3 separate regions of the Homo sapiens genome follow, and regions 1 and 3 are each linked to region 2. Evidence: fine-mapped expression QTL. A gene starts in region 2. Each other region holds a variant in brackets. All regions are shown on one strand. Distances are between the middles of the regions. Region 1 overlaps EMC1 (ER membrane protein complex subunit 1). Region 2 holds the start of AKR7A3 (aldo-keto reductase family 7 member A3). Region 3 holds the start of NBL1 (NBL1, DAN family BMP antagonist).

Region 1 (8,175 bases), 61 kb before region 2:
TGCCCTAACCGGCACGCTTTGCTGCCATCCAGGGAATTTGAGATCCTAAGAAAACCAAAGCAGCAACTGGGTTTCTGGAAAGGACTCAGGAGGCAGGGAGACCTCTGGAGCTACCTTGGGTCCCTGGTAGTGACCGCTTACCACCACCCAGTTCTCTGAATGCACGATATGGACAGGGCCTTTGGCTTTCTTCTGCACAGAGGAGTGAATGATACGCCCAGTGACGCCATCAATGAGGAAGATGCCAATAAAGGTGCGCTCATGGTGCGCGTCTGTGCTCTCTGTCACCACGGCCAGCAGGTTGGGGTTCAGGCTCTGGAGAGAGAGAGAAAACCTCCCTTAGAACCACGACGACTCATCACACACTCCATTCCTGTGCTGTGAGACCAACCTGGAGCTCTCCAGCCTGGCAGAGGAATCAGGGTTTCTGGTGAAAAGAGCTTCCTGTTTGGAATTTCTCATCACTGCACTTGTTTTATGTGCATTGGGTACTGGGTGCCATGCCAGGTACCTTGTATTTTATCTAATCCCTTAAACAGTCTTGCAGAGTAGCTATTATGGTCCACATTTTGCAGAAAAGTCCCAAAGTAGTTAAGCAGCTTTTCAAGTCACAGATAGCAAATGGTAACCCAAGACAAAATCCAGGTCTGCCCACTCATTGACCTAGGGACAAATGCTGCAGTGATATTTTTCTTCTGAGGGTCACCACCCCCCTCCCCATCGCTAAATCCAGTGGCTAAGTCTTGGCCCTCAACTTACTTGACCCACTAGTACCACGTGACGCAGGTGATCACTACCTCCTTGCGACATTTTCTCACCTGGCTTCCAGAACATCCCTGCCCAGCACTCCTTCTACTTTACTGGCCTCTCCTTCTCAGTCTCTTTTGGAGGTTCTTCCACATCTCCCCAGTTTCTTCATGGTGGAACACATCAGAAAGCTCTCAAGCCTTGAGCATTTCCGTCACACTTACCCTCGTGGTGATCTCAAGCCAATCTCATGGCTTGAACACCATTTATGGATGTTGGCAATGCCCAATGTATATATCCAAACCAGATACTCCTTTGAACTCCAGACTTCACTAAGAAATTATCTCAGTATCTTTTCTCAGATGTTTCATCTGAAACTTAACATGGCCCAAGCTGAACTGTTCTAACTCCTGCCTAAAATCTGCTCCTCTCTCCTCCCCAGCCAGTCACGACTCCATACATCAGTGGCTCAGACCTAAAGCCTCGAGTTATCCTTGACTCCTTTCTCTGTAACACACATATACCTGCTCTTGGCTCTACCTTCAAAAGTACCCAGAACCTGATCCCTCCTTCCCACCTCCATGCTACCAGCCCAGCTCCAGCCACCATCAGCACCTGGATGACCCCACAGCCTAAATGGTCTGCTTTCCTCCTCACCCCTCTACAGTCTAATCTAGGTCAAATGAGCCTGTGGAATCTCAGTCACTGATGTCACTCCTCTGCTGAAAACTTCCCAGTGGCTCTTCACCGTGCTCCAAAGTGAAGGCCACGGTGGTGGCCTGTGATCTGGCCCTGTTGCCCTCTGCCCTCAGCAGGCCTGACATGCCTCCTCACTCATCATCTTCTAGTTACCTGGTCTTCTTTGCTGTTTCTCACACATACCAGGAGCACTTTGACTTTTCTCTCTGGAAGGCTCTCCCCGCAGCTACCCACACAACTCACTTCCTCACTCAAGTCCACTCACTCCGTGCCACTTTCTCACTAAGCCCCTCCTTAGCCACCCGACTTACACTGTACCTGCTTTCCCTCTTCCCGGCTTTATTTTTCTCTATAGAACTGGTCACTTTCTAATATACTATCTAATTTACCTATTTATTTTCTTTATTATTAGCCTCACCCAACTATGATGAAAGCCTCACGAGGTCAGGAAGTTTTGTCTGTTTTGCCCATTTTATATCCCAGTGTCTAAATGAGTGCCTGCATCCAGCTAGCACTCAAAAACTGCTTGCTGCTGGCCGGGTGCGGTGGCTCATGCCTGTAATCCTAACACTTTGGGAGGCCAAGATGGGAGGATTGCTTGAGCCCAGGAGTTTAAGACCAATCTGAACAACACAGCAAGACCCCATCTCTAAAGAAAATAAAATAAGTGCCTGGGCACGGTGGCTCCCGCCTGTAATCCCAGCACTTAGGGAGGCCAAGGCGGGCAGATCACGAGATCAAGAGATCAAGACCATCCTGGCCAACATGGTGAAACCCCATCTCTAAAAATACAAAATTTAGCTGGGCATGGTGGTGCGCGCTTGTAGTCCCAGCTACTCGGGAGGCTGAGGCAGGAGAATCTCTTGAACCTGGGACGTGGAGGTTGCAGTGAGCCAAGATCGTGCCACTGCACTCCAGCCTGGTGAAAGAGCAAGACTCCATCTCAAAAAAAAAGAAAAGAAAGAAAAGAAAATAAGCCATGGTGACATGCACCTGTTGTCCCAGCTGCTTAGGAGGCTGAGATGGGAGGACTGCTTAAGCCCGGGAGGTCAAAGCTGCAGTGAGCTGTGATCACACCACTGCACTCCAGCCTGGGCAACATGGCAAGACCCTGTCTCAAAAAAAAAAAAAAAGAGTCAATAGCACTAATAATAATGTTAAGTATGTGGCAGGCACTATTCTAATCACTTTACATGTTATCATTAATCTTCAAAACAATCCTCTGACGTTGGTGCTATTATCCCCATTATACTGGGGAAAATTGAAGCTCAGGCAGCCTAAGAGATGAACAGCTAGGCCACGGCAGAGCCAAGTCTTAACAGTCAAACTAGAGGCTTGCACTGTGTTGCACTGGCTCATGCTTAGTGATCCAGCTTTACCGTCAAGTTCCGTGATCTCTATTCTATGACACCCCCTCCAATTCAGTCTCTGCTGTACCAGAGGGTGTAATTAATGTGCATTACTACTATCATTACATTCTCTCCCATAACAGTTTTGCAGCCCACTAGTCACCTTAATCTCCCTCTCTTTAACACTAACTAGAGTGTTGGATCACAGAGATGGAGTTTCTGATGGCTCGACTATGGTTTAACCCCAGAATGCTCTATCAGTACTACCACTAGTAATAAGAGCTGGGCTAGGCGCAGTGGCTCAAGTCTCTAACCTCAACACTTTGGGAGGCTAAGGTAAGAGAACTGCTTGAGGCCAGGAGATAGAGACCAACCTAGGCAACATAGTGAGACCCTGTCAATATAAAAATAAAAAATTAAAAAAAAATTTTTTTTTGAAGACAGGGTTTTACTATGTTTCCTAGGTTGATCTCTATCTTCTACAAAAATAAAAAATTTAAAAAAAATTTTTTTTGTTTGTTTGGAGACAGGGTCTCACTCTGTCACCCAGGCTGGAGTGCAGCGGCACAA[T/C]TGCAGCTCACTGTAGCCTCAACCTCCCCAGGCTCAGGTGATCCTCCTACCTCAGCCTCCCGAGTAGCTGAGACCACAGGCATGCACCACCATGCCCAGCTAATTGTTTTTTTTGTTTTTTTTTTTTGGGGGTGGTAAAGACAAGGTTTCAGCCATGTTGCCCAAGCTGGCCTCAAACTCCTGGACTCAAGTAATCCACCCACCTCGACCTCTCAAAATGCTGGGATTACTGGCATGAGCCACCAAGCCCAGCCGTTTTTAAAAAATTAGCATGACATGTGCCTGTGGTTCCAATTACTTGGGAGACTGAGGTGAAAGGATTGCATAAGCCCAGGAGGACGAAGCTGCAGTGAGCCATGACTGCATCACTGCACTCCAGCCTGGGCAACAGAGCAAGACTCTGTCACAGGAAACAAACAAACAAAAAAAAAGTCAAAAAAATAAGAGCTAACATCTGTTGCTTACTTACCATATGCTAGGCACTGGGCTAGACATGAACATCCCATGTGATCATCACAACAAGCCCAGGAGGAGGGTATATTATCCCCATTTCACAAACAAAAATTAAGGCTCAAAGGGATTAAATGACTTACTCAAGGTCATATATGTACCAAGTCCTACAGCCAGACTTGAAGCCCTTGTTTTCCTGATTCGAAAGCCCTTGCTGTAGACCAGACAGCTGGCTGTATGTACCTTGTAGAGCACACTGCGGTCCCCCATCACACGGCCCTGGGAATGAACGTGCTCACTGCTGCGTTTCCCCTTCACCTTGACGATCCGCTGTACTTCTGGGGGAATGGTCAGCTCCCAACTCAGCTCAGTGGTGAGATCCTAGGGCAGGGGCAAAAAAGCCTGTAATCAGGAGGGTACACTTAGAACTGAAACAGCTGGAGTTAGACACATCCTACAGTTCATTATTTGAGGCCTTTGTGCAGGAAGGAATAGAGATCAGAACTAGAAAAATGAGCCAGGAGCAGTGGCTCATTCTTGTAATCCCAGCACTTTGGGAGGCCAAGGCGGGCGGATCACTTGAGGTCAGGAGTTCAAGACCAACCTGGCCAACATGGCCAAACCCCATCTCTACTAAACATACAAAAAATTAGCCAGATGTGGTGGCAGGCACCTATAATCCTAGCCACTCGGGAGGCTGAGGCAGAGGCTGCAGTGAGCTGAGATCACGCCACTGCACTCCAGCCTGAGTGACAGAGCAAGACTCAAAACAAAAAATAAACCAGAAAAACAGCAATAGAGATCTAGTTTATGAAGAAATTTCAGAACTCTCGGTTTGATTAAGATAGATACTAGACCGGGCGTGGTGGCTCACACCTGTAATCCCAGCACTTCGGGAGGCCGAGGCAGGTGGATCACCTGAGGTCGGGAGTTTGAGACCAGCCTGACCAACATAGAGAAACCACATCTCTACTAAAAATGCAAAATTAGCCGGGTGTGGTGGCGCATGCTTTTAATCCCAGGTACTCAGGAGGCTGAGGCAAGAGAATCACTTGAACCCAGGAGGTGGAGGTTGCAGTGAGCCGAGACTGCACCATTGCACTCCAGCCTGGGCAACAAGAGCGAAACTCCGGCTCAAAAAAAAAAAAAAAAAGATAATAAAGCCAGTAGGAAAGGAGGCGAACGCTCAATAGTATCCCGTTGTTTATCTGAGTAGGAAATATGCAAGGAAAATTTACCATTTATTACTAAACTCCAAGATCCCTGTATACTGGGGCCAGCAGTGAATGTCTAAGCTAACAGGGAGCTCAAAACATTTCGTGTATGATTGTTTATGGTCATAGGAAACCAACCAATAAACACTCATGGTTAAATACATTATTATACATCCATCCTATGGAATTATGCGGAGCCCTTGGGGGTGGAGACAGGAGGTAGTTACTGGCAAAGGGCACAAGGGCCTTCTAGGAGCTGGTGCTATTCTGTTTCCTGAAGTGGTCACCAGGTACACAAGTGTATTCCCTTGGTGAGGGTTCACTGAGCCATACCTCATGATTTTGCACTTTTGTCAATATTTTTCTGTAATAAAAAACTGAAGTTGACAAAACAATGAGGTAGAAAACCCATTAAATGAAAAAAAGCAAATTTCATAAGAATAAATATAGGTCAATTGCATGTGAATGAGAAAAAAAAATAAAATGGGCCGGGCGTGGTGGCTCACACCTGTAATCCCAGCACTTTCGGAGCCCGAGGCGGGAGGATCACTTGAGGTCAGGAGTTTGAGACCAGCCTGGTCAACATGGTGAAACCCCGTCTCTACTGAAAATACAAAAATTAGCCAGGCATGGTGGCGTGCACATGTAGTCTTGGGAAGCTGAGGCAGGAGAATCGCTTGAAACCAGGAGGCAGAGGTTGCAGTGAGCTGAGACTGCGCCCCTGCACTCCAGCCTGGGTGACAGAGCGAGACTCTGTCTCTAAAAAAAAATAAATAAAGTATGAGCCACACACGTGTGTCCACACAGCTGTTGATAGGGAATCATAAATACACAAGGACAGTAGAAAGAGGCACAGCAAACTGCTGACAGGCTTTCCACCTGGGGAGGGGAAGACCGCTGGGAATGGGGCTACAAGGGTCTGTTCACATTTTGCTTGTTCACCTCTCTGTATCAATGGACTCTTTTACAATGAGAATATACTCAATGTATTACCTAAATTTTTAAAATAGTGAAAATTATTAATAATAAGCCTTCATTGCCACAACCTTCTTTGAAAACATAAGAACTCACTAAAACATCCCCAGAGAGGAAGGTCACCAAGTGAGGGCAAAGGCAGCACACTCCCTTGTGGTCCCGGACTCGCGCACACAGCTGGCTCACTTCCCACAGACAGCTCTGCCTCCTTTGTCTTCCTTGGTCATTGTTCACTCAGATGATGTCCTCAGGACTCCAGATTCATGACACCCACACTCCAGTTCACTCCCCTGAATCTACAAAACTGTCTCTTTCAAGGTCCTCTTTTTATTAACTCAGAAGGATGATTTTATTTATTTATGTTTTCATTCACAAGGGTAAAGGATGTGTCTTCTGGGCAGACCATTTCCAGTGCTGTTTATGCTAAGGTTAGCTGTTACAAATGTCACAAAAGGGCGCTGCATTTTCAAAACAACAGCACCTCCAACTCAGATGGCATTTACCATGTGCCAGGCAGTTTTATGTGATTTATGTGTTGAATTCTCACAACAACCTTATGAGACAGGTACTTATCACCTTATTTTACAGATAAGAAAACAGAAGACCAGAGCCCAAGGTCACAAAGTTAGTAAGTGACAAACCTAGACTTCCAATCTAGCAAATTGGTTAAACTCTATGCCTCTCAAAAGGCCTTACAGGACAGGATGGGAGAGCTGTTTGTGAGTACACACCACAGAGTACTTCTCCAAACAGTCCTGCTAACAAGGCCATGCCAGCCCCTCGTGAACTTCAGAGCTGGACTTCACAGCCAGCGTGTATTACTGTTTACAAGAGTTGGTCTCAAGTATGTGAGGATTAAAGCAAACTGACCCCCTTTCTAGAAATAAAATTCAAAGCACACATTCCATCACGAGTTGGTCAACATCATCTTCATATAAAAGTACAACTTATTACTCAACCCACATTCCTACCTTCTACCCTCCCAAGAATGGAAAAAAAGTCCCATCTCTCTGCTATAGAAAAATAATGGGGCCAGGCGCGGTGGCTCACGCCTGTAATCCCAGCACTTTGGGAGGCTGAGGCAGGTGGATCACAAGGTCAGGAGTTTGAGACCATCCTGGCCAACACAGCAAAGCCCTGTCTCTACTAAAAATACAAAAAATTAGCCGGGCGCGGTGGCGCACGCCTGTAATCCCAGCTACTTGGGTGTCTGAGGCAGGAGAATCGCTTGAACCAAGGAGGCAGAGGTTGCAGTGAGCCGAGATCGCACCACTGCACTCCAGCCCGGGCGACAGTGCAAGACTCCATCTCAAAAAAAAAAAGAAAAAGAATGTGGAATGAAAGCTCCACAAGGGCAGAGATTTGTTCTACTGTGCACCACTCCATCCACAGCACCTAGAACCGTATCTGCCATGTAGTAGCTGCCCAACAAATATGAACAAATGATTGACTTTGTATCAGACATCAGGATTATGCTAATCTAAGTTTACAGTAGAATGAGTAGCATAATTCACTTCTTAGCCAAATGGCCAGGAAACACCTGCATCTCATCCACAAAGGGTTGTGCCAGGACATGCCTTCCTACCTTTCGAAGCCGATATCCACACAGCCGTCCCTGCTCTGCATCCACCAAATAGAAGAAGATGGAAGGGGCAAGCTCATGTAGCTGTCGCAAGACATTCCGAGTGGCTGGAAAAGCTGTGACCTTGAAAAACCCAGAGAGCCCAAGGAAAGAGTTAGGAAATTTCCCCATCAAAGAGAGCCTTAAGAATAAAACTGCAAATCAGTTGATTTGAACTCAGTTTAGGGTTTACATTCAGTTCTGTTAAGAACCTGAGTTTTCACAAATGCAGACACAGCCATCATTTCTCTTCGGGATGGCCTTAGAGCCCAAACACGTGCTGGGTGCAGAGAGCACTCCATCTCCGGGCCGCTGTGTTTGACCACCTGGCCCCAAACCGGACTCCGCTAGCATGTTCTCCATCCCCTCTGAAGACAGTACCTTGTATTCATCATCTATCAACAGCAACACCTTGGCGTAGTCTTGATCCATGACTGGGAGAAGCAAGGACTGCAAGATGGGGCGCTTCAGCACTGGGGGAGCTACCTGACTCCACTTCCCAAAAATGGGATTGAAGACATACAGAGAACTCATTCCCGACTCCTAAAAT
Region 2 (8,150 bases):
CGCCATACGCGGCCTGCAGGGCCTTCTCCACCAGGGCAATGCCCTCAAAGTGGTGCTCCTTCCAGTAGCTGGGAAGGGGGGACGGTGGCACAGGTGTCAGGGCCACATTGGGAGCCACAACCAAAGAGCCAACCAGGGCCACTGTCCCACCCCACACCCTGCAGCCCTGAGGGGCAGGTGTTCTCTCTAGCCATGGGTCTCCCACTTTGCTGGGCAAGAGAACCACTCAGGATGCTGGGCCCCTCAGCAGAGACCTCAACAAATCTTTATTCCTGAGGACTCATCAGCCTGCTCTTATTTTCCTTAGGGACACAAAGGCCGCTAAGATGGGTCAGGACTCAGCCCCAGGCCTCCTGGACCTCCCTCCAGAGCTCCTTCTTTCCTTCCTAGCAGGTGATTGCTCAGGAAAGAGCAACGACTTCAAGACCCCGAGGTCCAGGGAGTCTCCTTTCCTCCTGGAGGTCCCAAGACAACAAGAAAACCGATGGAGGGTTTGGAAATTCCCGAAGAAATTCAGGGGAGTAGGTGCAGCAGCGAGGAAAGGCCTTACCCCAGGAGCAGCCCAGGACTTCATTCCACATAAAGCTGACCCCACCCCAGCCATCCACACCAAGCACCCACAGCTTACCGATTCCTGTACATCTCTGCCCAGGTATTCCCAAAGAAGCGGCCCACGGGCTGTTTCCCATTCTTGTCCTCATACTTGTACTTGCCGGTCAGCAGGCCCCCTGAGGGAAAGCAGCAATCAGCCCCGGGGCCTAGAGTGCCCCAGAAGCTGCCACATCCCTCAGGGCTCTGGTCTAGGGGAGGGGCAGGGACCCAGGAGGGCTGAAGATGCAGCCTTTACGTCTTTGACCTCAGAGGTCAAAGTTTGTCAAACCCTCCTTGCTTCCCAGGTCCTGGGCTGGGCATCTGTGGGTCGGGAATAGGCTGAGACAGGGCCAGGAATGCTCCACGTACCAGCCAGAGGGTTGAAGGCATAGAACCTCAGTCCAAAGTGCCTGAGGCAGGGGAAGAGCTCCGTTTCCACCTGCCGGGTGATGGCATTGTACATGCCCTGTAAGGAGAGGGGCCCCGGGGGAGAGGGTGGATGTGTCAAAAGAAGAGACTTCAAAATTACCCTTCCAGAACCCTTATTTCAGACCTTAACAATTCTAGGACTTTAACCGTCTGGGCGTATACTTATTCTAACTGGTGCTGGTGAAAGAAGCTTATGCCCATGGAAAATTCATTCATTCTGCCAACTTTCATGAGCACCAACTATGGGCTGGTTGTCAGATTTAGATTCTTAAGCCAAAAGGACAGGGTCCCTTCCCTCAAGGTTTTATAATAAGGTCAAGTATAAACAGTTATAATCAAGTCATGAGGCAATCATAATAGACTAGAAAGTTCTGTGACCAGTGCCTGGCACCAAGCAGGTGTGCAAATATTTGTGCAATGAATCATGAGGAGGTAAACAAGGACCTGAGGTCTCAGGGTCTTCTGGGCCCATCTAGAAAGGCTTCCAGAGGAAGAGACACGTATGTGAGACCTGAACCATTCTCTCACGGAAGGGGCGGTGGTGGGGGAAGGGCTTGTTCCAGGCTGAGTGCAGGGGAAGGTAGGGAAGGAAGGGTCCAAGGTGCACAGATAGGCAGGAAGGAAGCAGATGCCCAGTGGCCAGCCTGAGGAGCTTGAATGGCATCCTGAGGGTACCTGGGAGCCATCTGCAGGCTTTCAGCAGGGGAGTGGCTGCTATGCAGAGGGCACAGGGGGCAGTCAGAGGGGCAAAGACAGCCCAGGATGAGCAGGAGTTCTGGAGACCTTGGCCTCTGCAGCCCTGGCTCTCACCTGGTACACAGTGGGCAGGATCCAGCCGTTGCTCTTGCAGAGGGTACAGATCTCGGCCACTTCCCAGGCTGCATAGTTGGAGAGGCCAAGCTCCACGAACTTGCCCTGCTCAGGTGAGGCTCCAGTCAGAACATAGTGCAGCCCAGACCAGGAAAGGGAGGCCAGGGTGGGGCCCCTGGGAGTTGGGCTGTTCCCTGCTCCACCCTGGAACAGCCCTGGTGCCTCTGCTCTCACCATTAGGATCAGGATAAGGAGAGCAGCAGTGGACCACCTCCCAGAGCTCAGGGGTCCCCTCACCTCCTGGTGCAGCTGGTGGCAGGCACGCAGTGTCTCTTCCACCGGGGTGCTGTGGTCTGGCATATGCAGGTAGAAGAGGTCCACTCGGGGACACTGCAGCCGCTTCAGTGACGTCTCCAGCTGGAACCGGAGACTGTCAGGCTTCAGGGAGTTCCCAAACAGTGGAATGGCCTTGGTATCAATTTTCACTGAGAGGAAAGAGAAATGAAATTCAGGGCCAGGCGCCGTGGCTCATGCCTGTAATCCCAGCACTTTGGGAGACTGAGGCAGGCAAATCAGAAGGTCAGGAGTTCAAGACCAGCTGGACCAACATGGTGAAACCCCATCTCTAATAAAAACACAAAAATTAGCTGGGCATAGTGGAGCCCGCCTGTAGTCCCCAGCTAGTCCGGAGTCTGAGGCAGGAGAATTGCTTGAACCCGGGAGGCGGAGGTTGCAGTGAGCCGAGATTGTGCCACAGCACAATGTCTCACAGAGTGAGACTTCTCAAAAAACAAACAAACAAACAAAACAAACAACAAAAAAAAAGAATCTTAGTTCCTAGTGAACTGGACTAACAGGTGAGTGGAGAGTCCTCTTCCCACTTTTCACACTTAGAAAGTCACCTAGGCTGGCAGGAGGGCAGTCACTGGAGCCCTTGAGGCCTAGCAAAGAGCAGGTTTGAGGAACTATTCATATGGAATTTTTCCATTCCACCACCACCCCTCTGCTTCTCAATTGAATTTAACTTCAGATCAGATCTGAGGACTTTCGCCAGCCAACCTTGGACTCAGACAGAAGACAAAGAAGGATTAAAAAAGGAAAGAAAAAAAAATCAGAAATAAGGGCCAGGCAGAGGGTACAGATCTGTGGTGGCTCACACCTGTAATCTCAGCACTTTGGGAGGCCAGAGCAGGAGGATCACTTGAGCTCAGGGGTTTAAGACCAGCCTGGGCAACAAAGTGAGACTCCAGTTTCAATGAATAATACAAAAAATTAGCCGGGTGTGGTGCTACTGTAGTAGTCCCAGCTACTCAGGAGACTGAGGTGGGAGGATGGCTTGAGCCCTGAGAGGTCAAAGCTGCAATGAGCCCTATCGCACCACTCCACTCCAGCCTGGGCAAAAAAGCAAGACCCTGTCTCAAAAAAAAAAAAAAAATCAGAAATATGGTTAGAGCTCTCACTGAGTGGCAGCCGGGTGATCTAGAAAGAGCGTGGCACTGGGATGCACGCACAGGCCAGGTTCGTTCTGGATCTACCATGTGGTGAATCAGAGGAGAAATAAGACTCCACTCAGACACTCAGTGGAAGGAGGCAAATGGTGCTAATACTAAGAACAAACAAACAGCTAACATTTCCCAGCCCTCACTATGTGCCTGCCAGGCATCGGCCTAAGCACTGCAAATGGCATCAGACTGAGGGCGGCTCCTCCTGCCCCTATACACACATCCTCCCCTCCGGCCACACCTGCCTCCTCCAGCACCCGCGGCATTGCCAAAACACATTTGCCTTTCCACACCCATGCCCACTGCCCTGACGCCCTTGCCCCTTGTACTCTTCCTGGCAAACTCCTATCCATTCTTTCTTCACGGGGTCCCTCCCAGGAAGGGGTCACTCTGGGCTCCCCAGCCATCTCTAGAACTGGAGCTTCCTGGAGTGGGTTAGTGTCCATTTCTCTCCAATAGCCTCCGACAGAGCCTCCCACAGAGAGGGCAGTGAGACTCTGTACCACCCCAATCCCTCATCCCCCTGAGGGAGCTGCCAAGGCTTCCGGGCACTGCCACCCTTGTGAGGTGCCCTTGTGAGTACCACAAGGTACTCAGAGCAAAGTCCGGGGCCCCGAGCAGGCTGGCATGTGCAAAGGAGGAAGCAGATAGTGTGCTGGGTCCAAACTCTGATTTTGGACTGTGCCAGGGAGTGCCAGGCGGTAAGAACAGAATTTCTGCAGATCAGGCCCGTCAAGGGCACCTGGAGGGCACAGGTGGGGACAGGAGCTGCACAATGCCAGATCCCAGTGTTTTTTGTGCTCCAGAGAGGGGCTAGCCAAGTCATTCCAGGCAAGACCAAGTCATCCAGGCGTCAGTGAGGGTGCTGGCTACCTCCCGGAAGAGAAGAGAGACGAACAGAAGAGAAGACGAGAGAAAAGTTGTCCGGAGCTAGACGTGCCTAAGGAGCCTGGTGTTCCCAAGGCTGCGAGGTGAACAGGGGTGGGGGCGGTGGGGGGGACAAAACTTTGGGTGCTGCCCCGGGGCCAGGGAGAGCGGGGCGGTACACGGCTGTGGACAGGCTCAGCTCTGCACCGTGCAGGGGGAGGATCAGGGGCCACTGTTACCTCTGCAGTCGCTGCCGCCCAGCCGGAGCCCCAGGCCGCCAAGGATGGTCTCGGACTGGCCCTCGCTGTACACGAAGGCCGTGTCTATCTCGGTGTGGCCGCGCTCCAGGAAGGCGCGCGTGACTGCGGCGCTGGTGGGCGCGTCCATGCGGCGCCCCATCTCCATGGCGCCCAGCACCGTGGCTGGCCGGGCCCGCGACAGCTGCCGGGACATGACGGCGGCAACGGGAGACTGTGACAGCCCAGGAGCCGCGCGCAGCGGTCGGAAGCACCAGGCTCGGAGCGGGCGGCCTCGTGGCTTTAGAGACGGGCTCGGGCCCCGCCCACCGGCGGGTGCAGCTGAGGGCGCGGCCGAAGGTGCCCGACGCCGCCCACGAGCTCGACTCCACGCTCGGCTACTAGGACCTTCTGCACTTGCACCGAGCAAGCAGCGAAATGGCTGTGGCTTCGTACCGGTGACTCGCGTCTTGGAGATTTTAACACTCCTCAACGTCCCCAAGGGTGAGGGGGTCCAAGGGTGGCGACTATCCCAAAAGGCGGGGACTCTTCGGGCCTCCCTGCCCCGTCGTCCCTCCTTCCTCGGCCTTGCCCCGGAGCTGTCCTGGGTTTCTGTCTCCTCCCGGAGGGAGCGCTTACGGGGTGGGGTGGACCTAGGGCTGTCGCGCCTGCCGTGTGGTCCTGGAGAATGAGGCTTACCAAAGGCTCAAGACAGCGTCCCCATGGAGTGACATGGTTAAAGTGTTGAAAGAAAAGAACTGTTGGCATTGAATTCTGTACCTAAGTGAAAAAAAACTGACTGGCTCTGGTGACTTAACGCCTGTAATGCCAACACTTTGAGAGATCAAGGCAGGAGGATCACTTGAGCCCAGGAGTTTGAACCCAGCCTGGGCAACATAGGGAGGCCCTGTCTCAAAAGAAAAAAAAAAAGATAGAAAAATGGACCAGTGCCCAGCGGCAGTGAGCTGTGATAGCTCTACTGCACTCCACCCTGGGTGACAGAGGGCAAATCTGTCTCCAAATACAAAAGAAAAAAAAAGACCAATAGACAGATGGAACAAATGAAAAACCAATAGCAAAATTGATTTAAACCCAATCATATCAATAATTACATAAATATAAATGATGTAAATGCTCACAAGTAAAAGGCAGTGATTGTTAGAATGGATAAAAAAGCAAAACCAAACTATATGGTAAATACCAGAAAGCTATTCAAATATAAAAGCAGAGATAGTTTAAGAGCAAAAAGATGGGAAAAGACATACACTGACAAAACTAAATTTTAAGAAGTTGGAATGGCTAAGTGAATATCAGACAAAGTAGATTGCAAAACAAAGAATACTGGCCCACACAGTGGGTGACATACTAGCCCACACCTGTAATGTTAGCACTTTGGGAGCCTGAGAAGGGAGGATTGCTTAAGTCCAGGAGTTTGAGACTAGCCTGGGCAACACAGGGAGATCTTATCGCTACAACAAAATTTTAAAAATTATCAAATTGTGGTAGCATGCACCTGTGGTCCCAGTTACTTGGGAGGCAGAGGTGGGAGAATCATCTACGCCTGGGAGGTCGAAGCTGCAGATTGAGACCCTGTCTCAAAACAGCAACAACAACAACAACTACCAAAGACAAAGAGGGACATACCATAATGACAAAGAGGTCAATTAATAAAGAAGATATAATTCTAAATATATATGCACCTAAGCATAGATCATCAAAATACATGAAAAACAATAATGGAACTAAAGAACAAGTAGATAAATACAAAATTATAATTGGAGATTTCAACACACCATTCTCAATAGTTGTAGAACAGTTATCAGTCATAATTTACGGAAACTCCGTAAAGGTATACAAGACTCAATGCTATGAACCAATTCCACATAAACAACATGAATAGAATATCCAACAACAGCAGGATATGCATTCTTTTCAAGTGCCCATCCACCAAGATATACCATATTTGGAGGCATAAAACAAGTCTTAATAAATGTAAAAGAGGCTGGGAGCGGTGGTTCACGCCTGTAATCCCAGCACTTTGGGAGGCCAAGGCATGTGGATTAACTGAGGTCAGGAGTTTGAGACCAGCCTGGCCAACACAGTGAAACCCCGTCTCCACTAAAAATACAAAAATTAGCTAGGCGTGGTGGCGTGCCCCTGTAATCTCAGCTACTCAGGAGGCTGAGGCAGGAGAATCACTTAAACCTGGTTGGTGGAGAGTGCAGTAAGCCGAGATCAGGCCATTGCACTCTAGCTTGGGCAACAGAGTGAGACTCCATATTAAAAATAAATAAATAAATAAATAAATAAATTTGAAAGGATTCCAATCATACAAAGTACATCTCTGAACACGATGGAATTAAACTAGAAAATAATAACACAGGCTGGGTGCGGTGGCTCACACCTTTAATCCCAGCACTTTGGGAGGCCAAGGTGGGCAGATCACTTGAGGTCAGAAGTTCAAGACCAGCCTGTCCAATATGGTGAAACCCCATCTCTACTAAAAATACAAAAAAATTAGCCGAGCATTGTGGTGTGTGCCTGTAATCCCAGCTACTCAGGAGGCTGAGGCAGGAGAATTGCTTAAACCTGGGAGGCGGAGGTTGCAGTGAGCCAAGATCGCACCACTGCACTCCAGCCTGGGTGACAGAGAAAGACTCTACCTCAAAAAAAAAAAAAAAAGAAAGAAAGAAAAAAAGAAAAGAAAAGAAAAGAATAACAGAATTTAGAGCCTGAGAGGGAACTGAAAATAAGTAAATAAGTTAACAAATAGAAGAAAAAGGAAAAATAGAAAATAATAATGGAATGATATCTGGAAAATCCCCACATATTTAGAAATTAAATAACCCATGGGTCAAATATGTAATCACAAGGAAAATTAGATCATATTTTGAACTGAATGAAAGTAAAAACAGGACATATCAAATTTTCTGAGATGCAGCCACAGTAGTGCTATGAGGGAAATTTATAGCACCACTTTGACATATTACAAAAGAAGAAATATTTCAGATCAATAATGTAAGCATTTACTTTTTTTTTTTTTTTTTTTTGAGACACAGTCTCACTCTGTCACACAGGCTGGAGAGCAGTGGTGCAATCTCAGCTCCCTGCAACCTCAGCCTCCTGGGTTCAATCAATTCTCATGTCCCAGTTTCCTGAGTAGTTGGAATTACAGGCATGCACCACCATGCCCGGCTAATTTTTGTATTTTTAGTAGAGAAGGGGTCTCACCATGTTTGCCAGGCTGGTCTTGAACTCCTGGCTTCAAGGGATCCTCTCGCCTCAGCCTCCCAAAGTGCTGGGATTACAGGTGTGAGCCACTGCACCGGCCGAGGCTTGTACTTTAAGAAACCACAAAAGGAAGAGTCAAGTAAAACCAAAATTAGCAGAAGAAAGGAAATAATAAAAATAATAGCCAAAATAGGCTGATGTGGGAGAATCGTTTGAACCCGGGAGGCAGAAGCTGCAGTGAGCCAAGATCACTCCTCTGCACGCCAGCCTGGGAAACAGAGCAAGACTCCATCTCAAAGAAAAAAAAAAGCCAAAATAAATGAAATATAAAACAAAAACATCAGCAAAAGTCAGTAAAACCAGAAGTAGTTCTATAAACACATCGCTAAAGTTGATAAACCTCTGGCTAGACTGATCAGGAATAAAAGAGAGAATACACAGATTAACCACACCAGAAAGAGCAGAAGAGACACCACTACAAATT
Region 3 (8,160 bases), 350 kb after region 2:
CTTCTTGATTCTTGGTGTCTCACCCTACCTACAAATAGTATTTTATTATTTTATTTTATTTTGTTTGTTTATTTATTTATTTATTGAGATAGGTTCTTTCTCTGTCACCCAGGCTGGAGTGCAGTGGTAAAATCATAGCTCACTGCAGCCTCTAACTCCTGGGCTCAAGAGATCCTCCAACCTCAGCCTCCCACGTAGCTGGGACTACAGGCACATGCCGCCACACCTGGCTAATTTTTAGTTTTTTTCTTTTTTTTCTTAGAGACAGGGTCTTGCTATGTTGTCCAGGCTGGTCTCGAACTCTTGGATTCAAGTGATCCTCCTGCCTCGACCTCCCAAAGTGCTGGGATTATAGGCATGAGCCACTGTATCTGACCCTACAAAGAACATTTGACATTTTTCCATGGGGCCAAGGACCCATGGAGTCCTTGGGGCCTCATTCCTGCTCTCCCGTCCAGGCCAAGACCCTCTGCAATCCTTGACAGCACAGGCTCCGTACTGTGGAACTCACAGTGCATGGCCACCTTCTCCTTCTGAGTCTTCTGAGTCCAAAATGGGGCCCAAGGTTTCCTGAGCCCACCAGCAGGGAGGAAGAGGCTAGAGGACACAGCCCAGGTGGATGGGCTCAAAGTCAGAACACCTGTTTCTGGTCCTGGATGTTCTGCTGACTTGCTGAGTGGATCTGGGCAAATCCTTTTTTCCTCTATGAAAAAGGATAATATAGCTGAGCTCAGTGGCTCATGACTATAATCCCAGCACTTTGGGTGGCCGAGGTGGGCAGATTGCCTGAGGTCAGGAGTTTGAGACCAGCCTGGCCAACATGGTAAAACCCCATCTCTACTAAAAATACAAAAATTAGCCGAGCGTAGTGGCACATGCCTGTAGTCCCAGCTATTCAGGAGGCTGAGGTGGGAGGATCTCATGAGCCTGGGAGGTGGAGGTTGCAGTGGGCGGAGATCGCGCCACTGCACTCCAACCTGGGTGACAGAGCGAGAGTCCACCTCAGACAAACAAACAACCCACCATAGTAACTACCACTTCCTGAGAGCCAAGCGTGTGCCGGCTCTGTGCCTCACATTCACGTCTCTCAGTGAATTCTGGGTGATCCTGGGGATGGGTCCTATTACAATTCCTGTTTTCCAGATGAGGAAACTGAGGCTCAAGAGATGCATTACTGGAGTAAGGTGAGAAAGCTTTGTGCTGAATCCTGGATTTGATCCAGGGCATCTGACTCCAGCACCTTTCCTGAGCTATATATATGAAACCTCCCTGAAATAGCTTTCATTTTATGGAGCACGTGCTATTTTCCAGGAACTGTGCCGAGAGCTTTGCATCCATTTATCTCCTTGAATCCTTGCTCCATCTCATTATAATCTCACCTTAAGTGTCACCTCTTTGCGACGTTTTCTGAGGCTTCTCAGTGAGTTCATACCTCCCCCATCACATCGCCCCCTCTGGCTTAGTTCGTTCATAATACTTTTTCTCCTTTTTTTCTTTTTTTTTTTCTGGAGACAGAGTCTCGCTCTGTCACCCAGGCTGGAGTGCAATGGTGCGATCTCAGCTCGCTGCAACCTCTGCCTCCCAGGTAGCTGGGATTACAGGCACGCACCACCACACCCAGCTAATTTTGTATTTTTGGTAGAGATGGGGTTTCACCGTGTTGGCCAGGCTGGTCTTGAACTCCTGACCTCAGGTGATCCACCTGCCTCAGCCTCCCAAAGTGCTGAGATTACAGGCATGAGCCACCACGCCTGGCCTCTCCTTTTTTTCTTTTAAATAAATATTATTATGATGATTATTTTTCGAGACAGAATCTCACTCCATCACCCAGGCTGGAGTGCTCTGGCATGATCTCGGTTCACTGCAACCTCCGCCTCCCAGGTTCAAGCAATTATCCTGCCTTAGCCTCCCAAATAGCTGGGATTACAGGCACGTACCACCACACCGGGCTAATTTTTGTCTTTTTATTAGAGACGGGGTTTCACCATGTTGGCCAGGCTGGTCTTGAACTCCTGACCTCAAATGATCCACCCAACTCGGCCTCCTAAAGTGCTGGGATTGCAGGCGTGAGCCATCACGCCTGGCTCTTTTAAATAAATATTAAACAACTGAACCTGGAACCTTCAGAACACATTGGTTATGTGAGATCCACTCATCTGTTTATCTGTTGCACAATCTGCCTGGGTGTGGCAGAACATAAGCTCCTTGGAGGCTGGGACCTTATTGGTCTAGTCTGTTGTTGTGTCCTCAACACCTCTGTGCATGTCTGGCACATAACAGGCACAATAAGTATTTGTTGGATAAATGAATGACTCCAGACAACAAATCTATGGAGTACATAGCACTACTAACTGCATTTTACAGATAAGGAAACCAAGGCCCAGGTGTGAAACAACTAGCACAGAGTCAGAGGGCGATGCAGGAACAATGTAAACCCTGAGCCTCCCCTGATGAGTCCGAATGGCTCCTCCCAGCTCCATACCTGGAGGTGTGAACGCTCTCATCTTTATCATAAAAAGAGAGGGACTGTGTACCAACCCTCTGTTCAGTGGGCTGGACTGGGAAGACAGGCCTTTTGCTTGTTTTCATTCTATTTCTCCAGCGAGAGTGCAGAGGTTTGGACCCCCGTTGAGGCCAGACTGACAGGATTAGAGGAAACAGCTGGGCTGAGTCCGTGCCCTGCAGGAGGGAGCTCACATTCCCGGACTCTGGGAGAGAGCAGCTCCCCACAGCTCAGTCACATTCCAGGTCGGTCATTTTCCTGAGCCCAGATGTTTGCTAATGAGCTGGGGAGAGGGGCTTTTAGCCCTGAGCCCCAGCTCTGGGCCCCACATTACCTCGGCCCCAAGAGGCTGGCCCAGGGCCAGGAGGCTCTGGCCTCAGGCCCATGCCCTGTGCCAGCCAGGCCTGTAGGGGCAGCTGGAACACCACTGCCAACCAGGTGCATCTGCTCGAGCTGGGACACTCTGACGTGACAGGTTCTGCCTTTCCCGCTGGGGCCCCTGGGGTCCATCTTCAGTGCAGCATCCCTGCTGCAGCCTGATGGGGAGGAGCACTGAGGCAGCCGAGAGGGTGGAGAGGGTGTGGTGGGCAAGGAAGCATGGACTTTGGTGTTGACAGGTCTGGGCTCAAGTCCAGGCTTTGTTAATCACTAGCAATGTGGTCTTGAGCAGGTAATGACACATTTTGGTGCCTCGATTTTTCTTACCTGTAAAATGGGAACAATGATGGGACTGTGGTAAGGATTAGAGGAGATGAAGCAGACAGAGTGACCAGCATAATGCCTGGCACAAAATGGGTAGATATTACTACCAAGTTACTTCCCAGGCCCCCTGCCCACACTGTAGCTTTCCCGTCACCAGACAGATGGTGACTCAACTCCAAACCCTTTGTCCCTGATTAGGGGGTTGGTGTTGTTCTTGAACCTCC[C/T]GGTGTTTGAGAGATGGTGGGCTGCCCTGTCAAGGGCACTGGCTGGAAGTTGTGGCTTCTACTCCTGGCTCTATGTGTGATCTGACCAGCTCATCAGGCTCCACAATTAGCTTTCTGCAATGTGGGAGTGGATTCTTACAAAATGTAGAACTCTACTTTCTACCCTGCTCGGGGTCTGCATGAAAGATGGCGGGGGTAAGCTTTGGCTGCAAAATGGTAAATATTTCCTGAGTGTCTACTGTGTACAGTGCAGTGAGGCTGGTTTCTGCCGTACATGGTATATAGTTATCCAACAGACACTAGCTGGCATGGGCTCTTACTGTGTGACTTTAGGCGAGTTACTTAACCTTTCTCTTGACGTTCCTTTTTTCACTTTTTTTTTTTTTTTTTGAGACAAGGCCTTGCTGGAGTGACAAGCTCATTAGGTTCCACAATTAGCCTTCTGCAATGTTGTCCAGGCTGGAGTACAGTGGCACAATCATAGCTCACTGCAGCCTCAAACTCCTGGGATCAAGTGATCCTCCAGCCTCGGGATTTTTTTCACTTTTATTATTTTATTTGTTTGTTTGTTTATTTATTTATTTATTTGAGATGGAGTCTCACTCTGCCTCCCAGGCTGGAGTGCAGTGGTGCGATCTCGGCTCACTGCAACCTCCGCCTCTCAGGTTCAAGTGATTCTCCTGCCTCAGCCTCCCGAGTAGCTGGGACTACAGGCACACGCCACCACACCTGGCTGATTTTTGTATTTTTAGTAGAGAGAGGGTTTCGCCATATTGGCCAGGCTGGTCTCGAACTCCTGACCTCAAGTGATCCTCCTGCCTTGGCCTCCCAAAGTGCTGGGATTACAAGCATGAGCCACTGCGCCTGGCACTTTTAAAACAGAGACAATACTTACCTCATAGGTTTATTGTGAGAGTGGCAACAGCTTGCAATGGGATGAGGCACATGGTAAGGTGCTCAATATGTGTGAACTATTATAACGGTCATAGTTACCATTAAGGGAAGACCTATCTGTGCTACATTAATGGGGGATAATAATTACTTTATTCGCTGGGCGTGGTGGTTCATGCCTATAATCCCAACACTTTGGGAGGCTGAGGCGGGAGGATCACTTGAGGCCAGGAGTTGGAGACCAGCCTGGGCAACATGGCAAAACCCCATCTCTACTAAAAATACAAAAACTAGCTGGGCGTGGTGGTGGGCGTCTGTAATCCCAGCTACTCGGGAGGCTGAGAATTGCTGGAACCTGGGAGGCAGAGGTTGCAGTGAGCCGAGATCACGCCATTGCATTTCAGCCAGGGCAACAAGAGCAAAATTCTGTCTCTAATAATAATAATAATAACAACAACAACAACAACAACAACAACTTCATTCAACCAAATACATTGTACATCTCACCTGGCCTGCCCATAAGCAATGGAGACACTGAAATAAACACGATTCCTGCCCTCAAGGTCTAATGGAGGAAAGAGATGTACACAGCTATTCTAGAGGGAAATTGACATGAACAGAAGTTCTCATCCTGTGCTCCAGGATCACACTGGAGGAGGGAGATGCTCCCAGAGGGTCTTGGGAAGGCTTTCCAATCTGGAGCTGGAAGAATGTTTGCCCAAGAGATGTACACAGTTATTCTAGAGGGAAATTGACATGAACAGAAGTTCTCATCCTGTGCTCCAGGATCACACTGGAGGAGGGAGATGCTCCCAAAGGGTCTTGGGAAGGCTTTCCAATCTGGAGCTGGAAGAATGTTTGCCAGAGATGAAAGGAGGGGAAGGGAATTCCGGGCAGAGGGAAGGGCGCAGGCAACAGCTAGGAGGCGCAGATGCAGGCTGGGTGTGGAGGGTGCGAGTAGGCTGGAGTACACCAGGGAGTTCCCAGCAGGCCACTAGGAGCCACCCAGGATGCCCGGCAACCTCATGAGTCAGACAAGCAGGGCTGTGTCTATCTGGAAGTTTCCAGCCAAGCTAGGTAAAACACATGGACACAGGTAACTATGCTGTAAAGCAAAATCCCCAAGTCCTACAATCGTGTCCCAGTGGTGTCCCTGGGCCACCACTTTCCAGAAGCAAAGTTATTTTCTCACCCCGTTGTTAAGCACACAGAATAGAGAAGGTACGGCCGCAATCCACCCAAGTGCCCACTGATTAGATAGGAACCCCCGAGGTGAGGCTGGAAGCTGGGGCCAGGAGCTCCACTCTTCCCAGGAGTCAGAGAAGTGAGTTCATTTGCTGGCTTTTTAGTTCCTAATAAGTCCCTGGGGCTTTTCGGGATGCTTAAGCCAAGGGCGTGGGGCCGAGAGCGACACTAGGATAACACTAGGCAAGGCTGAGCAACCCAGGCTACCAACAGCACGGACTTGAACCGGGTCGCATGCCGGAGCGGACGGGATGAGGTGCACCGCAGAACTGGGGACTCCTGGTGCCGGGACGCGGCGGGCTGGGGCGCCCCACTCTCGGGGCAAGTCTGCAATGCCCGGTGCCCACAAAAAGGACACATCCATCTTTGTCACCCCGAGGCCTGGCACGGCCTGACGGCCCAGGCTCGGTAAAAGTCGGGCGGAGAGAGTGGAAGCGCAGAGAAACCCGGGGAGGGCGCTTAAGAACGGGCCAGGGCGCCCGGCTGGGCTGCCCTGCCTCTCGGGCGCCGGCCAGGCGTCCCGGCCGCCCCACCACGCCGTCGGAGCGCGCCGAAGCTCAGCCCGGGGCGGGCGGGCCAGGAGAGGGCCCGGGGCCCCTGCCGCCGCGGCGCCCCCTCCTGCGCACCCGGAGGGAGAGGCCGCGCGCGCCCGCCCGCTCTTTCTGCGCGCGGCCCTCCCCGCTGCCCCCGCCCTCGCGCCCTGTTTGGAGGGAGCCACCCTGACGTCGGAGCCGCTCCCCCGCGCCGCGCGCCCGCCCGGGGCCGCAGACAGCGCGCAGCGCAGCCCAGCCGAGCGTCGCGGGGCCGCCCCCCGCCCTGCCGGCCGCCTCGCCGAGCCTCCTGGGGCGCCCGGGCCCGCGACCCCCGCACCCAGCTCCGCAGGACCGGCGGGCGCGCGCGGTAAGTCCCGCCCGGGTCGGCACGCGGGCGCCCGGCTTCCAGAGGCTTCGGCCGCGGGGGCAGTGCCGCGCCCCCAGCCCGGAGCTGCGTCCCCCGGCGCGTCCGGCGGCCGCGGGCACCGGGTGGAGGCGCCGCCGCCGAGCTCAGGAGCCCTGGGGGACCTGGCGGGCGCCTCCGGACGCCGGCGCTGGGGACGTGGGCGCGGCACGGGGTGGCCGGGGGGCACCGCCGCGTCCGGAGCCCGTCCCCAGACTCGCCCCAGGGTTCCGTTTCTGGATCGGAGTTTCCGCGGCCGGGGGAGAGAGGGAGCGAGGGAGGGAGATGCGTGGCCGGGCGGGCCGGGCTCGCATGTCCCCCGGCCGTGCCCGGGCCTCGCCGCGCCGCGCCTCTCGGCTCTGGACGTTTCCGCCTCCCGCGGCCCCCTCTGCTTCGGTCCCCACGTCCGTGTGTCTGTCTCTCCGTCGCTCCGTTTCCGCCGCTCACTTTCCCCTGGTCTGCCCGTCTCTTTCCGTTCCCCGCCTGCCTCCGTGTTCGGCTGCCCGCGTTTGTGTCTCTGCCTCTGGCTTTTCTCTCCCTCTCTCTGTCTCTGCGCTGCCCTCTGTGGGGGTCTCGCCCTGTGTCTGCGCCTCTCCCTGATCCCCCGCCCTCCGATCCAGACAATCCCCCAGTGTCGGAGGCTCGCCTTCCCCCAGCGGGGTTCACGAATAGTTTCCTAGACCGGGTGCGGCAAACCCTCCCCCTGCCTCCCGCCGGCCCCGAGGCCTGGCCCGGGTCATCTCCCTGGAATTGAGTCTGGGGCAGGGAGAGCCAGCCTTTCCGGGGGCTCAGTTTTCTTAAGAATTCCACCCCCGCGAGGCCGGCTGGACGACAGGCCCTGCTGCGGGCCACCTGCCCGGCCCGCTCCCAGGGCGGGGCGATTCTGATCGTTTACAAGCGGCGGCAAAGGGGGCAGCCGCCTGCCTTGGCGTGGCCGGAGGTTGGCGGGCATCAAGGGAGAAAGCCACACTTCCAGGCTTTCGGAGGCCCTCGCTCCCCAAGCTGGACGCCACCAGCCTGTAACTAGGGGCACCCCAGGAAAACAGAGGTCAGGGCTGGAGGCCAAAGACCGGGCGCTGGCGGGGAAGCAATTTGTCAACAAGGAGCCCCTCACCCTTTGTTACTGCGGAATGGGGCCTCCCTAGACTCCCCCAGATGCTGGGGCTGCTTGGGCGTGGTTTGCCTTGAGTTGGGGCCAAAGAAAAGGCGAGGCTGCAGCGTTTCCTCGGTGACCCCTACCCCTCTCCACCCACCCCTGCAAGCTGGACCTCTCTCCCGGGCCTGTGTTTTGGAGGGGTGGACAGGGGAGTAGGTGTTCTGCATCGGCCAGGGATATCGCCTCATTATTTTAAAGTGAAATTTCAGGCTGAGTTTAGCTGCTTCCCCCCACCCACAACCTCAAGGGTCGGAGGCTGCCGGAGCGGGCAGGGTTGTTGGTGAGGTCTGCAGTGGAACTTCTGCTGAGCAGATGTGCAGCCTGGCCCTGCAGCAGCTCATTAGCATGGATTTGTTTTGGAGACTGTTTTTCGTTTGCGGGCAGGAGGGTCTGCGGTAAGGAGGGCCGTGGCCTGGGTTTGGGGGCTGGCACAGAGGTGGTCAGGGCTGGAAGATGCAGGCAGGCCTGGGTGGCACGGGGTCGGCCCTGTGTGTCCGCCCTCT

Evidence for each region. PIP is the estimated chance that this variant, and not a neighbour inherited with it, causes the effect.
Region 1: its variant is fine-mapped to the expression of AKR7A3 in ovary (GTEx, PIP 0.97).
Region 3: its variant is fine-mapped to the expression of AKR7A3 in subcutaneous fat (GTEx, PIP 0.95).

Annotation. Positions count from the first base shown.
Region 1 is chr1:19,223,255-19,231,429 of GRCh38, forward strand. EMC1 (ER membrane protein complex subunit 1) reads right to left here. Exons shown (of 23, transcript NM_015047.3): 16 at 8,007-8,168; 17 at 7,590-7,709; 18 at 4,059-4,196; 19 at 142-315. All of the region lies in intron 1 of EMC1-AS1 (EMC1 antisense RNA 1), which reads left to right. Among named protein-coding and RNA genes, the nearest start is that of EMC1-AS1, 17 kb to the left of the region's middle. The variant T/C (reference allele first, on the strand shown) is at 3,366.
Region 2 is chr1:19,284,058-19,292,207 of GRCh38, forward strand. It overlaps AKR7A3 (aldo-keto reductase family 7 member A3), which reads right to left and starts at 4,713. Exons shown (of 7, transcript NM_012067.3): 1 at 4,439-4,713; 2 at 2,128-2,315; 3 at 1,831-1,935; 4 at 961-1,057; 5 at 629-728; 6 at 1-68. The coding sequence starts at 4,652. It overlaps LOC124903867 (a long non-coding RNA gene), which reads left to right and starts at 4,003. Exons shown (of 3, transcript XR_007065521.1): 1 at 4,003-4,303. RefSeq lists enhancers at 1-445, 3,946-4,768, 4,769-5,590.
Region 3 is chr1:19,637,982-19,646,141 of GRCh38, forward strand. All of the region lies in intron 1 of MICOS10-NBL1 (MICOS10-NBL1 readthrough), which reads left to right. NBL1 (NBL1, DAN family BMP antagonist) reads left to right here and starts at 6,330. Exons shown (of 4, transcript NM_005380.8): 1 at 6,330-6,465. RefSeq lists an enhancer at 5,342-6,177 and a silencer at 6,076-6,415. The variant C/T (reference allele first, on the strand shown) is at 3,430.